4 linked regions of the Homo sapiens genome follow. The protein of the gene in region 1 purifies or fractionates together with the protein of each later gene. This does not show direct contact. Each region holds a gene or a part of one and is shown in the gene's direction. Other genes may lie near its edges.

Evidence for each region. Proteins that work in one complex are often made in the same cells at the same time.
Region 2: the proteins of MYO1E (region 1) and CNN3 fractionate together in Homo sapiens (co-fractionation; one large-scale study listed by BioGRID). This does not show direct contact.
Region 3: the proteins of MYO1E (region 1) and LMO7 fractionate together in Homo sapiens (co-fractionation; one large-scale study listed by BioGRID). This does not show direct contact.
Region 4: the proteins of MYO1E (region 1) and SMARCA5 purify together in Homo sapiens (affinity purification with mass spectrometry; one large-scale study listed by BioGRID and IntAct). This does not show direct contact.

What each region holds. Positions count from the first base shown.
Region 1 is NC_000015.10:59,222,872-59,226,371, reverse strand, and holds part of MYO1E (unconventional myosin-Ie), read left to right. Parts: intron 1-1,548; coding exon 1,549-1,683; intron 1,684-3,180; coding exon 3,181-3,313; intron 3,314-3,500. UniProt on the Homo sapiens protein: Actin-based motor molecule with ATPase activity. Unconventional myosins serve in intracellular movements. Their highly divergent tails bind to membranous compartments, which are then moved relative to actin filaments.
Region 2 is NC_000001.11:94,906,611-94,910,110, reverse strand, and holds part of CNN3 (calponin-3), read left to right. Parts: intron 1-3,500. UniProt on the Homo sapiens protein: Thin filament-associated protein that is implicated in the regulation and modulation of smooth muscle contraction. It is capable of binding to actin, calmodulin and tropomyosin. The interaction of calponin with actin inhibits the actomyosin Mg-ATPase activity.
Region 3 is NC_000013.11:75,856,330-75,860,366, forward strand, and holds the end of LMO7 (LIM domain only protein 7), read left to right. Parts: intron 1-176; coding exon 177-279; intron 280-1,591; coding exon 1,592-1,614; coding exon of another isoform or gene 1,615-1,684; 3' UTR 1,685-3,537; downstream 3,538-4,037.
Region 4 is NC_000004.12:143,520,202-143,523,701, forward strand, and holds part of SMARCA5 (SWI/SNF-related matrix-associated actin-dependent regulator of chromatin subfamily A member 5), read left to right. Parts: intron 1-1,227; coding exon 1,228-1,394; intron 1,395-3,500. UniProt on the Homo sapiens protein: ATPase that possesses intrinsic ATP-dependent nucleosome-remodeling activity.

The sequences.
Region 1 (3,500 bases):
GTTTTGTTTTGTTTCATTTCGTGTTTAGTTTGTGGATCACTGGATTAGAAGGACATTAAACTGTGGAAGTAGCTCACATTCAATCTTTTCAATTACACACACATCTTAGGCAATGCCAAATAATTCTTTTAGTTTGTACCTGTTGGTTGAAAAAGTATATAAATGATTAAAACTTCTGTGAATTCAGTCATTTTTAAAATTGTATTAAAGCAACATATATAGATAAGTGAAAAATAATTATATATTTCACATAAATAATACCCAGTGCTAGATGGAAGTGTATAATGGATGTCAGGACTTCTTTAAATAAATGCAAGCCCCAACCCTCCCCCAGGAGTTCTCTGCCCTTAAGTCAGAAACCACCAGAATAGAGGCTGGGAACTGATGGGCGCAGGGGTTCAAGATTCTGACATGAAAGTAATTCTTGGCTGGGTGCGGTGGCTCACGCCTGTAATCCCAGCACTTTGGGATGCCAAGGTGGGTGAATCACGAGGTCAGGAGATCGAGACCATCCTGGCTAACACAGTGAAACCCTGTCTCTACTAAAAATACAAAAAATTAGCTGGCCGTGGTGGTGGGCGCCTGTAGTCCCAGCTACTCAGGAGGCTGAGGCAGGAGAATGGCGTGAACCTGGGAGGCGGAGCTTGCAGGGAGCGGAGATCGCACCAGTGCACTCCAGCCTGGGCGACAGAGTGAGACTCCGTCTCAAAAAAAAAAAAAAGAAAAGAAAAGAAAGAAAAAGAAATTCTTGAAGCTACGAAATACTTGGGAGTGGATGTGGGGAGAAAATCCTGCCACACAGGACCAGGGGACTTTCTAGATATGTAGGATCGGGAGGCATTGAAGAGCCAGCAGGGAAGTAGTTGAAGGATAAGGAGGAAAGCCAGGATCCTGCAGTGTCACCAAGCCAGGGAAGCCTCAGGGCGACATCGACAGGATCAAATGGTCAGAGCTCTTGGGCAAAAGGGACGAGCTGGGGTGTGGGGGCCAAAAAAAAGGCTGTTGGATTTAGGCACTGAAAAATAGCCATGCAAGGGTTCCGCCAGAGTGGTGAGGGGAGAAGCTAGAATGCAAGTGGTTATGTCATGGCAAGGAAGTAGATCCTGCAGCTTGGAGAAGTTCACAGTCAAGGAAAAGCTTCTAAAGAAGGCAAAGAGTACCAGAGAGCAGGAAGCTGCATGGCAGTTTTTTAACATGCACCCTGCAGTGAGAAACATGGAAAAGCCAGCTTAAAAAGCCATAGCAAGTTGGGCAGGAACTAAGTAATTAAAATCTGTTTTGCTTTCCACTCTTCCGAGGGTGGCAGTCCAGTTCCTTTCAGTGGACAATGGAAAATCCTCAGCTCTTGCAGGTCTTTCCAGAGTTAGGAATCAAAATTTGCAGAGATGACCTGGGGCTACTACAAGTACATATTTGGGGGCCAGGACTGCCTGTAATTTTAGAAAGCAGAGATAGAAAGTCCTTAGGGATGGTGGCTGCAGGATGCAGGAGTGACTTCGGGTGCCTTGTGGTCCACATCATGGCTCAACCTGTGTTCTCTTGCTCCAGCTCATCGAGGGCGCCTCTGCAGAGCAGAAACACAGCCTTGGCATCACCAGCATGGACTATTATTACTACCTGAGCCTCTCGGGCTCATACAAGGTTGATGACATTGACGACAGGCGGGAGTTTCAGGAAACTCTGGTAAGTGCTGGCGCAGGGCCAGGCAGGATCTGCTCTCCCAACTGGCCATTTCCTGTGGCCAAAAGGGCAGTGAAGGTTAATAAAGCAAAGAGCTGCATGAAATGTCCGCCTCTTTCTCTGTGAGCACTCTGTATGCTCATACATGTTTCAGTATCCTTAAACAGCCATGTGCCAGTTGCCTGAGGACCACTTAATGATTTGAGATGGGTAAAAAGAAATGAATTCATCATTATCACCCTGCAGGAGCTCTGATAAATAGGCAAAAATGATTCATACGTTGAGCATACCTGTTTGCTGATGGCCTACTCTATTCGTGAGCTATTTCCTTAGAAAAGCTAAGCAAACCGCACGTCTATGGACTGAATAGGTTTAGACATTTTGGAACGTCTTTAGTCTTTTCTCTTATTTCTTTTCTGGTTTTGAAGACTCTCTTCCCCTCTGTATTGTTTAGGGCAGAGGACCCTTTTTCTGTGCCATGCCCTTCACATTGCATGTATGTTATGGTCCAAGCTGTGAAACTAGGTAGATTATGGAGGGGTTCCATCCTGGGGGCAATAATGTAGAACTTTCTGGAGGTAGGCTGAACACCCACTTGGCCTCAAAGGCCTTCATTGCCACCCACTGCCCTTTGAGTCTGTTTCAAGCTGGGGACTATTCCTCAACCCAGATCCAGAACTGAGCAGTAGACTCTGAATGAGCAGCGTGGGTTCAGTACATTTGTGGTTGAAAGGGACAGAAAGTTCAAACAGACTGTGTCCTGGGTGCCAGGAAACAAAATGGTATCAACAGGTCACATGGCCTCAAAGCAGCTGCGGGGAAAAGTGCCAATAAGGAGTCTGCACACTGGTCCTAGAGTGTAGTTTTCTTAGGAGATGTTTCTCTTAAGATTTAGACATTTTAGCGGTATTTATTGCATTTAAGGGACCTCAGAAACTGGACTTTTAAATGATGCTTTTATTGGATTTCCTGGAGATTTTTCATTAAGATCCTTTTGCAAGTACAATATATTCTTATCCCTCCTGATGAAGGGAAAGATCTCGAGTCCACTTTGAGTAGGTGGAAAGGTCAGCAGCGACCTTCGAGGGGAAGCTGGCAACAAGAACACATCAAAGGATGAAGACAGGACTTGGAGACTTTGTGTACAACTACCACTCTTCCGAGTCTCTTTCCTCCTGGAGTATTCTCTTATTCCTGGAGGATGGCATGCTATGCTTAGAGACAGAAGTGCCCTTCCAGCATGACTTTGAGACGTGAGAAGAATGTGTGCATTGGGCAGTGACCATGTTGTACAAGAACGTCCTGCTGTCATCACAAGCTAAGCCACATGTGACTGCACAACCCAATCTTATGTTTTGGCTTTTTTTTTTTTTTTTCTTTGTAACTCGTCTGTACTTGTCACATCCTTATTTAGAGCAGCTGCTGTGCCTTGGCTTCTTCCTAAGGTGCTTTTAAAGCTGGTGACCAGCTTCTCTGGATAGTTTCTCTTTTCTCTTCCAGCACGCCATGAATGTGATTGGGATCTTTGCAGAAGAGCAAACGCTGGTGTTGCAGATAGTGGCGGGTATTCTCCACCTGGGAAACATCAGCTTCAAAGAAGTTGGCAACTACGCGGCTGTGGAGAGTGAAGAGTGTGCGTAGCCCTGGCATGTGGCCATTGAATGAGGGGTGGCTAGCTCTGATTAGAAGTAACCTAGCACTTTCCTTTGCTTAGATCTCAAATGGGAATATTGGGAAGAAGTGATAAATCTACATGTCCTCTGTGGCAAACAGAATGGCTTCACGAGAGACCAGACCTCTTCTATGCACCTGTCCCTGTC
Region 2 (3,500 bases), on another chromosome or scaffold:
GCCACAGCTGAAATTAGGGAGACTGTTGTAATCACTGGGGACAATAACCAGGAATTGTCTGCTTCCAGGTTTGAACAAGCTCTGTGATGATAATACATTGTGAGAAGGAATCCATGTGAAAAACAAGCAGTCTTCATTCTTCAGTAGATTCTGGAATGTCCTGGGTGTAATGGGGGCATCAGACAGTTCTTGTACATGAATGTCATCACTCTACCTCATGGCAGATGTGCCCCCATCTTTTTTTCAAATGGTACTTGAGCTGAATGCTCTCGGCGTACACCGAGAAGTACCATTCAACAGCGCAGGAATCGAGCTTTTGGGTCAGCTGTGGAGGTGCTTTTTGAAGCTAGGTCTCCCTTTACTCTTTCTCCCTTTCTGAGGGTTCTTAGGGGGAAGCTTCTCAAATTTCAGAGCCAGGGAGGGGCATGGCTGTTTCCCAGCAGCTGGTAGGCTTGTATCTGCTCTAGTGTCTGCCTTCACTGTTAGGACACATAGGCCCTCGGGGTTGTGTTTCTGAAGGTGGTCTTAGTCCAGAGCTCTTGGATATATGATTAATAGTGATATGTGATATGTGTGCCTGTGGGCTGGAAGAATAATTGGCTGAAGGATAGGCCCTTCCCTCTGGGAATGGAGTGTGATTTGTGGGGGGAGAGACTTGTACATTTTAGTGTTATCTCAGTGTTTCTTAACCTTGTTTTCATGATCACCTTCTCCAAGAGTTGTTTTAGACATTGTTCCTAGTTACCTCCTATCCCTTGCTAGATTTAGTACAAAGGAATAAGATTTTGTTGGGTAGAGTTGAGCTTTGGAGGGTCCCAAGTTTTTGTATTGTCTTAAGATTTTTTTCACCATTGGTAGAAACCACCACAAGAAACACTTTTCACCTCTTTGGGACACCACCACCCCTGTTGAGAATGCATGCGCTACATACTTGTATATCATTTATTTGTTTATTTTTGTTTTAAAGACAGAGTCTCACTTTGCCACCCAGGCTGTAGTGCAGTGACATGATTATCAGTCACTGCAACCTGGAACTCCTGGCTTCAAGCAATCCTCCTGCCTTGGCCTCCCAAAGTGCTAGGATTACAGGCATGAGCCACCCACCTGGCCTATTTTTTTTTTTTTTTTTTTAAAGAGACGGGCTCCCTATATTGCCCTGGCTGGTCTCGAACTCCTGGGCTCAAGGATTCCTCCTGCCTCAGCCTCCCAAAGTTGCAGGATTACAGGCCTGAGCCACCATGCCTGGCCCAGCCTAATTTTTTTAAAAAAATTATTATTTTGGAATTGGCTGGGCGTAATCCCAGCACTTTGGGAGGCTGAGGTGGGCGGATCACCTGAAGTCAGGAGTTCAAGACCAGCCTGACCAACATGGCGAAACCCCATCTCTACTAAAAATACAAAAATTAGCTGGGTGTGGTGGTGGGCACCTGTAATCCCAACTACTCAGGAGGTTGAGGCAGGAGAATCGCTTGAACCCGGGAGGTGGAGGTTGCAGTGGGCCAAGATCACGCTATGGCACTCCAGCTTGGGTGACAGAGCGAGACTCCGTCTCAAAAAAACAAACAAACAACAACAAAAAACCAATTATTATTTTAGAATTACAAAAGAAAGTGAGGGCTAAAGAAAGGTCATGAAACAAGAAAGGACTGATCTGCATTTGAACTGAAGGGTGACTCCACACTGGTGCTCTTAGCTGTCCTGAGGAGAGAGCCAAGGGAAGCTCTAAGGGCTGAAGCCGCCACCACGACCACAACAGGATGAGCCCTGGACCCAGGCACAGGAACATGAAGAGGAGCAGGTGAAGCTGTCGGAGGAGCGAGAGCAGAGCAGGCCAATCGCTGAATGTAGGGAGGAGGATCAGCTGTATCCTATGCCCTAGGAGGCTTTTTTCTTGGTCTTCATTATCTTCACATGTTGATTGTATCTGGCTAGAGGGATGTTGGAGAGTTTCGGGGAGGAGTCTCCAGCAGGTGTGCCTAGACAGTATTCTCCTCGGTCTCTGGATCATTTGTAAGTGCTCCTTGATGCAAAGAAGGCTGTCAGGCACTGCTTGGAGAATGTGTGCGTGTTTAAGAAAGGAAGGTGGGCATATAAAGAGAGGGGCTGCTGTGGATTTGAAAGAGCCAGGCAGAAAGTCTGCGAAAGCAGCTTGGGAAGGCCAAGAAAATAAATCTTGAAGAAGAATAAAGAAAAGGATGTTTATCAACAACTTGGAAGAGTAATTTTTATTTTATTTTTATTTCTTATTTTTGAGACGGAGTCTTGCTCTGTTGCCCAGGCTGCAGTGCAGTGGCACCATCTCAGCTCACTGCAAGCCCCGCCTCCCGGGTTCACACCATTCTCCTGCCTCAGCCTCCCAAGTAGCTGGGACTACAGGCGCCCGCCACCACACCCGTCTAATTTTTTGTATTTTTAGCAGAGACAGGGTTTCACCGTGTTAGCCAGGATGGTCTTGATCTCCTGACCTCACGATCTGCCCACCTTGGCCTCCCAGAATGCTGGGATTACAGGCGTGAGCCACTGCGCCCTGTCAGGAAGAGTAATTTTTAAGTAAATTAGAGTGAAATTTCCATGAAGTATTAATGAGGTAAGTTTAAGCAATTATTTTAAGCTAACTTTCTTTTGTTGAGAGAAAGAAAATGTCAGCGTTTTTCTGCCAGATGTTGAGAAATTAAAGCTTTTTAGATGAAGATAGTAAATCATTTTTATTGGCCAAAGATTACTTTTTTAAATTGCTCTCAGTTCCTTGATTTTAAAAGATAATGCTGTTTAGCTGGCCTGACTGCATAAAGCTCACTTACTAGAAAAATATTCGAAGTATTTGGATAGGAGAATCCTGTTGCTCCTTTACTTAAAGGAAACCCTTAGCCCACACCAACAGTTATTTGATGTGGCTGCATTCCTAGTCTTAATTTTTAATTGATCATATGGGGCTTTGAGTTTTGCATGCTTGTACATACGAATTTCTTCTGTGCACGTGGTCATATGGTAAGTCTCAAGGACAGCATCACCTGTCCAGAGCTCCCCCCCACAACCACTCATTGGTAGAGCCAGGATTTGAACTGAGGTCCATCTGACTCCAGTGCTTGATTTTTCTATCTCATCACTTCCTTGACAAGAACTGTCAACAGAGAAGGTGAAAACTTCTTACTGGGATCTACTAGGATATTTCAAGTTAGGTCTGTAGTCACTTCGTGGTTTGGGGCATGGCACCAAATCTGTTGGACACATTTTGAACAAAGGATGCATAAATATGCTTTTAATGTTTTTCTGCTTAAATATTAATTGATGTCATTTGGTATGAGAATTACCATCACCATCCTGTGAAATATCCCAAACTACTCTAACATAATTTTTCTCTACATTTGAAGAAACGAGAAAATACTTCTTCAGTTTTTTATTATTTGACCAAATTGTGTAGATAGCTGAGAGTAGGAACGGACCTAGTGCAGGCATCCAGTTTAGACTTCCTCTTGGATCGAGAGAAGTTAGAGGAACTA
Region 3 (4,037 bases), on another chromosome or scaffold:
TATCTGGCGGTCTTGATTTGAATCTACTAATCATCTTTCGGCCTTTTTTTTTCTTTGCTGAAATGTATCTAAGAGCTTAGAAGTAGCATTCTGCTCATTTCCCCCCCACCCCCAGGAGTGCCCCAAGCTTTCTTGAGCTGACTGATTGTAGATGTTCTTTTTTTTTTGTTCCCCAGTGTGTTGCCTGTGAGTGTGACCTCGGAGGCTCTTCCTCAGGAGCTGAAGTCAGGATCAGAAACCACCAACTGTACTGCAACGACTGCTATCTCAGATTCAAATGTAAGAGAGCAAATCAGAGAGAAAATTTCTTGCCTTTTAAGGAGGCCACGGGTTCCCATGCATTTCCCTGAACCTGCAGCGAGCTCCCCTCCAAGTTCACTGCCATAGGATTCCAGGTTTCAAGAATTGTAGTGTGTTCCCTTCAAAGAGTGTGTATAGTGAATGGGTCACTGCTCAGGGTTCCAGCTACACAGGAGTGGGTTGTGGGGCCAAGGAATGGAGAGGAACAGTGTCCAAAAGTCAGGATGGTGTCTTGTGTTATCTGCCCAGAGTCCGCAGAGACCTTTAATGACTCAAGAATACAAACAAACCAAAACACTTAAATGAATCTTCTATGTAGGATTTGTTTCTTGACTAAAGATTGGTCCCTCATCAACTTCTATTATTTAACAATGGGCTTTGATTATGTGATTTAGAATATGACCAACTTTAAAAAATATTGTTCCATGTAATACAAAATAAGTCAGTTTATGCTTTATGTTAATATATGTCAATATATAATTTTAAAAGGAAAGTATTAACTATGGTGTTTCAGTGTCATTTTTGGAAAAAATGAGTTTTTCAAAAAACTTCAAATGCTACTTTGCATCTAAGCATGTGTTTGTGTGTTATAAAAGGTAGGCTAGCATAACTAGGTTGTGTGTTGTGTATAGCTACAGCAAGACAAGTATTACTGCTGTTTTATATTTTAAACCTTGATGCTGGTAACATGTGTTTCTTCCTTATTGTGAAAGGGTGTTACAAGTGGTATCAGCAAAATCATTTGCTTTTGAACTCTGAGGTATTTATATGGCCCCTATGTGAAGAGTGCTTTGGAAATGGTTTAAGCCCAGTCAACTCTCTTTTATCTGTCGGTGGGTTCTGAGCCTTCCTGCTGCAGCTGTCCAGTCCTTTCCTGGATGCTGACACTGAGGTTGGAGAAAGTCAAGGCTGGGCATGTACTGGTGGGGGGTGTGTGTATGTGTGTGTGTTTTTCTCTCTCTCATCAAATTCCAAAGCCAAATAGAAATGATTTCTGGAATCACCATTGTAAAATTGCCCATGCCTTTTCTCTCCTCCAAAACAAATAATAGAGAGTTGAGTGTAATTTATTTCTATTGTGAGCAGTTCATTTTTACTCCATTTTTACAAATAAAGAATTCCAGAGACGAGACACTGAGACTTGCCTAGCTTTATCCTAAGAGTGAGTGACAGGTTACTCTTTCTACCTCATTGGGCCACTTTCTGAGTGATGACTGCTATGTATCCCAGATGGCAATATTCACGTTTCTGAATCTAAGCACTTTTCTTTCTTTTCTCCTTGCCCGATCAGCTGGACGGCCAACCGCCATGTGATGTAAGCCTCCATACGAAAGCACTGTTGCAGATAGAAGAAGAGGTGGTTGCTGCTCATGTAGATCTATAAATATGTGTTGTATGTCTTTTTTGCTTTTTTTTTAAAAAAAAGAATAACTTTTTTTGCCTCTTTAGATTACATAGAAGCATTGTAGTCTTGGTAGAACCAGTATTTTTGTTGTTTATTTATAAGGTAATTGTGTGTGGGGAAAAGTGCAGTATTTACCTGTTGAATTCAGCATCTTGAGAGCACAAGGGAAAAAATAAGAACCTACGAATATTTTTGAGGCAGATAATGATCTAGTTTGACTTTCTAGTTAGTGGTGTTTTGAAGAGGGTATTTTATTGTTTTTTAAAAAAAGGTTCTTAAACATTATTTGAAATAGTTAATATAAATACATAATTGCATTTGCTCTGTTTATTGTAATGTATTCTAAATTAATGCAGAACCATATGGAAAATTTCATTAAAATCTATCCCCAAATGTGCTTTCTGTATCCTTCCTTCTACCTATTATTCTGATTTTTAAAAATGCAGTTAATGTACCATTTATTTGCTTGATGAAGGGAGCTCTATTTTCTTTACCAGAAATGTTGCTAAGTAATTCCCAATAGAAAGCTGCTTATTTTCATTAATGAAAAATAACCATGGTTTGTATACTAGAAGTCTTCTTCAGAAACTGGTGAGCCTTTCTGTTCAATTGCATTTGTAAATAAACTTGCTGATGCATTTAACGAGTGGGTCGTCTTTTTCTTAGGTGTATGTGTCTGACCTCAGGCCTTTTAGCCATATTTCAGTATGTGGCCTTTTTTGATGTTATGTTTTATCCAGTAGCTTTACTAAGGTATAATTGATGTAATAAACTGCATATATTTAAAGTGTATACTTTGACAAATTTTGACATGGTGTATACCTTCGAAACTATGCCACAGTCTGGATGTGTTTACTGAAACATTTTAATAAGGAAGTTTATTTTTGATAAAGTTATGTTTTTGGATACAATATATTTGTATGGTGAGAGTGATGAATTGTTGGATCATTTGAATAAAATCTTTTACTAACCCCATGATAAAAGGAGAAGACAACAGTGAGCTTAGAATATCTATAAAGCAAAAAATGTAGTCTCTTGTTTAAAAAATCTGGAGCGGGAATGCAAGGATACAAAACTTTAGCATGCTTTGAGCAAAAATTTAAACTTACTGGAATCTTTTATAATAATGTAAGTGGAATGGAGGATTCTAGGAACTGAGAACTGTATTGGAATAGGTTCAAAATATGTAAGAAATGCTAATGTGGGAGATAAAAATTTTATTTAGTACTTATTCTGATTATTATTAAAGTAATAATGTGTTCCTTGAGGATAACTTGTCAAATGCCCCAAAGCATAAAGAATATAATTCTGAATCCCAAATTCCAAAGACAAGAACTCTGTGTTTGAATTCATTCTGCATATAATTATTTATAAGTATAGATTGTGAATTTTTCCATGTTCTTAAAATTATTTTTATCTTTTTTCATGGTTGCATAGTGCTCCATTGTTTGGCCTTGGTAATATTTAGTTGATAATTCCATTACTGTGTATTTTTCACTTGTTTCTAAGATCAAACATTTTAATATGTGCATGTTATATATAAATATGTAAATTCTGTGATACTCTATGATCATCTCTTTCTTTATATTATTTTCATAGACATGAAATAGTTGCTCAGAGATTATGCATTTTAAGACACTCATAGTATATATTGCCAAAGTGGTTTCCAGAAAGGCACTGCTGGCTTCGACTCCTATAAGCAGCACGTGGGCTTGTTCATCTCACTGCATGTTTATGAAGATACAGTTCTTTTGCCTTGTTCTCTGCCTGATGTGTATGCAGAGGCAGCCCTCAATATGCAGTGGTTGAATAAATGAATGAAGAAACCACTATCAATTTCTGCCTTGTTAATTCTGTTTTCCACTGTCCCCAGAGGATGCCTTAATTCTGCCATCATTTTCGTTTCCTTATCCAAAATCCTTTCTGACCATTGCTCCTTTTCATCTAAGCCTTTTGTCTTTTCATCTGCTCTTGTTTTCTTATGATTTTTTCCCCCATTTCTCACATTATCTTACTTAGTGATAACATTTCTGTTAGTACAAATTATAAGTACAGTTTTCAGAGCTATTTTCTTCTAGGATACCGGCTCTACATTTGTATAAGCCCTTGGGTATTTGTTACTTCACCTAGGAACAAGGGAAGAGTCCAGCCCTTCAACAAATTTTTTAATTCATACTTTATGCTCCAGGCACTGCTTTTGGCACCATGGGTAGAACAGTGAAGAAATACAGTCTTGGCTCTGATTGGTCTTATTTTTCTGGTTGAGGGAGGTGATAAAACAATACATGAAAAAATAACATGCAGGTGGCGATGAGAGCAACAAAGAACAAAT
Region 4 (3,500 bases), on another chromosome or scaffold:
ACATCTTGTAGATGCGTGCTCTTGGCTTTTGTTTCATTATCTATAAATTAAGAAATGTAATTATGTAAAATATGCATTCACATATGTATCTTGTTCAGCACTTTAAAAACAGTCTGTAATCTTGGAAAACATAAATAACAGAGGCTTGTCATCTGTAGGACATTACTGGGGTTCTAGCATGTTCACAGTCTTGTTACTGTGCAGATTCATTTGCTGCTATGACTGCCATTTGTGACCCAATGAAACACTATAACCATGTGCCTTCCTAATAGCAAATTGGGCTTCAGTTTTTACATTGGTGTGACCTTAAAAAATGATTATGTTCCTTTTAAAAATACGTAGTTGTTACAACATTATGGCATTTGGATACTTCTTGTGTTTGCTAGGTAAAATGTCTTTTTGTAATTTATTCCCAAACTGACATTTTAAACATTTATAGACAGAGATGTTGAGTAGTTGGTTTCCCTGTTTATTGAGCTTTTCTTGTCTTGCTTCTCCTTTGTTTCATCAAACTATTATTGTTTTTGTATAAAGGCTGCCTAATGGCTCCCAATTTCATTATTTTTATGAAAATTTGTCTTCGAGGCTCTTAAGGTTTTTTTTGCCCAAGTAAATTTTTTCCATTCTCTCGGTATTATAATAGGGAACATTCAAAGGGGCAGATGGCAGATACGAAAGGAAGGAATAGTATCAATCCCAATACCGTTTTAAAATTTGTCACAGCCTAACTAATGAATGAGCACTGCATTTTTTCCAGCTTCTGAGTAAATTCACTTGTATTGCACAGTGTTTAATATTTTAAAAATTGTTCCGATCAACTGTATTGAAGTATAATTGACATAAAATAATTTTAAGTTTGTAATTCAATGAGTTTTAGCAAATATTTCTTTAAATACCATCACAATCATGATGCAGAGTAGTTCCATCATCCCCAAAGTTTGCTCCTGCTCCTTTCTAATCAGTTCTTGCTCCCACCTCCTTGCCACTTCTGATCTGCTTTCTATCACTAGTTAGCATTTCATTTAAGTGGAATCATACAGCATGTAGTCTTTTGTGTTTGGCTTCTTTCACTTTGCATAGTGCTTTTGAAACTCATCCATGTTGCATTTATCTGTAGTTCTCTTTTTTTTTTTGCTGAGTTCATTGTATGGAGGCATGCTGAAACTTTGATTTCTGAAGTTTTAATTGATACTCTGATAAAATGTATCTTAAATTTTTTTTTTTCAGCAAACTGACCGGGCAAATAGATTCGAGTATTTATTAAAGCAGACAGAACTTTTTGCACATTTCATTCAACCTGCTGCTCAGAAGACTCCAACTTCACCTTTGAAGATGAAACCAGGGCGCCCACGAATAAAAAAAGATGAGAAGCAGAACTTACTATCCGTTGGCGAGTGAGTAATAGTTTAAACTTCATAGTTCAACCAAACTTATTTTCGATAGTCTTCAGTGGAAGCATAAAATCACTATGATAAATAACTTAAAATTATTTTAGTGCCATTATTTATTTGGCCCTGTTTGGCTTGGCATGATTTAGCCATAAATGTATAAGTATATAAAAATACGCATAATGGTTAGAGCACAGTGGCTCTTGCCTGTAATCGCAGCATTTTGGGACGCCAAGGTGGGAGGATTGCTTGAGTCCGGGAGTATGAGAGCAGCCTGGGCAACGTAGGGAGATCCCATCTCTACAAAAAAAAAAAAAAAAAAAAAAAAGAATAAAACTGCATAACGCCTTATTTTTTGTAGCATTATATAGTTTATGAATTGTAACAATCATGTTGAGTATGGAATTTAGATGTCACGTCATTCCTCAGAGAGGAAACAAATGCAGAGGTTAAGTGGCTTGTTTAACATCACATTGAAGAATGATCCAGACTTGAATTTGAATCTGACTTGGGTGTGCTCTAGGCTCCTCCATCACATACAGATGTTGACAGTATTTTATCTAAAGTGTGGTGTGTGGGATATTGTGATGACTTACATCACGGCAGCCTGTTTAAAATTTTTATTGCATACTTAGTTGTTTTTATATAAATTGAAGTGTCACGTTGTATGCCGTCCTTTGGTGGTGGTTGAAAATAATTCTTACATGTTGAATTTGGAAATTCTCTAGAATTTTCATTCTGGTTGGATAAATAAGATGTTTAATTAGTAATAGTAGATTTAGGGCAGTCTTGGCTCCCTGAAATGGCTTTGTGTAATTCCCAAAGTGAAAACTGTGATTAGTAATTAAAATACAAAAGATTGTTTAAAAGAAGAAGTATCAACAAGGTTAAATTCACTACACAGTTTGTTGAAAGAGGGAAGTATGATCTTCATCTTGAAGGGGTTATCGTTGTAAGCATAATACCTTTTATTTGGGGTATTCCACTCATTCATTATATCTTATTTCTCATCCATTGTGACCAAAGCACTATTTTAATACTTACGAAACTTTGAAGGGACAATTTTGCCCTTCAGCTGTATTTAAAATATTTCAGACTTCAGAAGTTTGCATTAGTGTCATGGCATGAAACTGGAAACTACTGTACTGAATATTGTTATGGGATAGTCAGTATGATGTCTCGAAAAGAAACACTTCTTTTATTCTTTTCTATTTTATTATTATCCTAATTTATCTTTTTTATAAGATAAAAAAGATTCTATTGGAAATAGTAATAATAAATTGTTAGGCTTAATGTATTAAATAGTGTTATTAGGGAAAAAAGTCCTAGTTAACAGATTTCTTTACTCCTCAAACCATCTTAAATGGGAAGCTAATTTACCTAAAGTAATGAGGGTCATAGTATTGTCTTTGGGTATCAGGAATACATTTTTTTAAATCTTTTTTTGTTTGTTTGTTTTTATTGAGACAGAGTCTTGCTCTGTGGCCCAGGCTGGAGTGCGTGCAGTGGTGTGATCTCGGTTCACTGCAAGTTGTGCCTCTGGGGTTCAAGCGATTCTTGGACCTCAGCTGGGATTACAGGCTCACGCCACCACGCCCAGCTCATTTTTGTATTTTTGGTAGAGATGGGGTTTCACCATGTTGGCCAGGCTAGTCTCGAACTTCTGACCTCAAGTGATCCACCCACCTCTGCCTCCTAAAGTGTTGGGATTACAGGCGTGAGCCACTGTGCCTGGCCAGGAATACGTTTTTTTTTTAAGTCATTCACGATTATATTCAATTTTTAACAATAAATGACATCTCAGCTTTTAAGTTTTACAACTGTAATAATCAAACATTTTGAGAGTAACTATAAAGGATATTTTATAAAAAGAATTTAAAATTATCTCCCAGTTTATGGAGAATAAATAGGGGATGGAAGTAGATCTTTGTACTCAATTTCATAGGCTCAGAATGCAGAGAAGTACAAGGAATAACAGACTAGGATGTACTGATTATGATTAGAAGCATATATAACAAACAAGAAGGCCCTTGAATTTCTGAGGAATGCTTCTATCTTGGAAGGCCGCTTATCCTTTTAGCAAGCATGTGGTTTTGGTAGAAATGAAGTTAC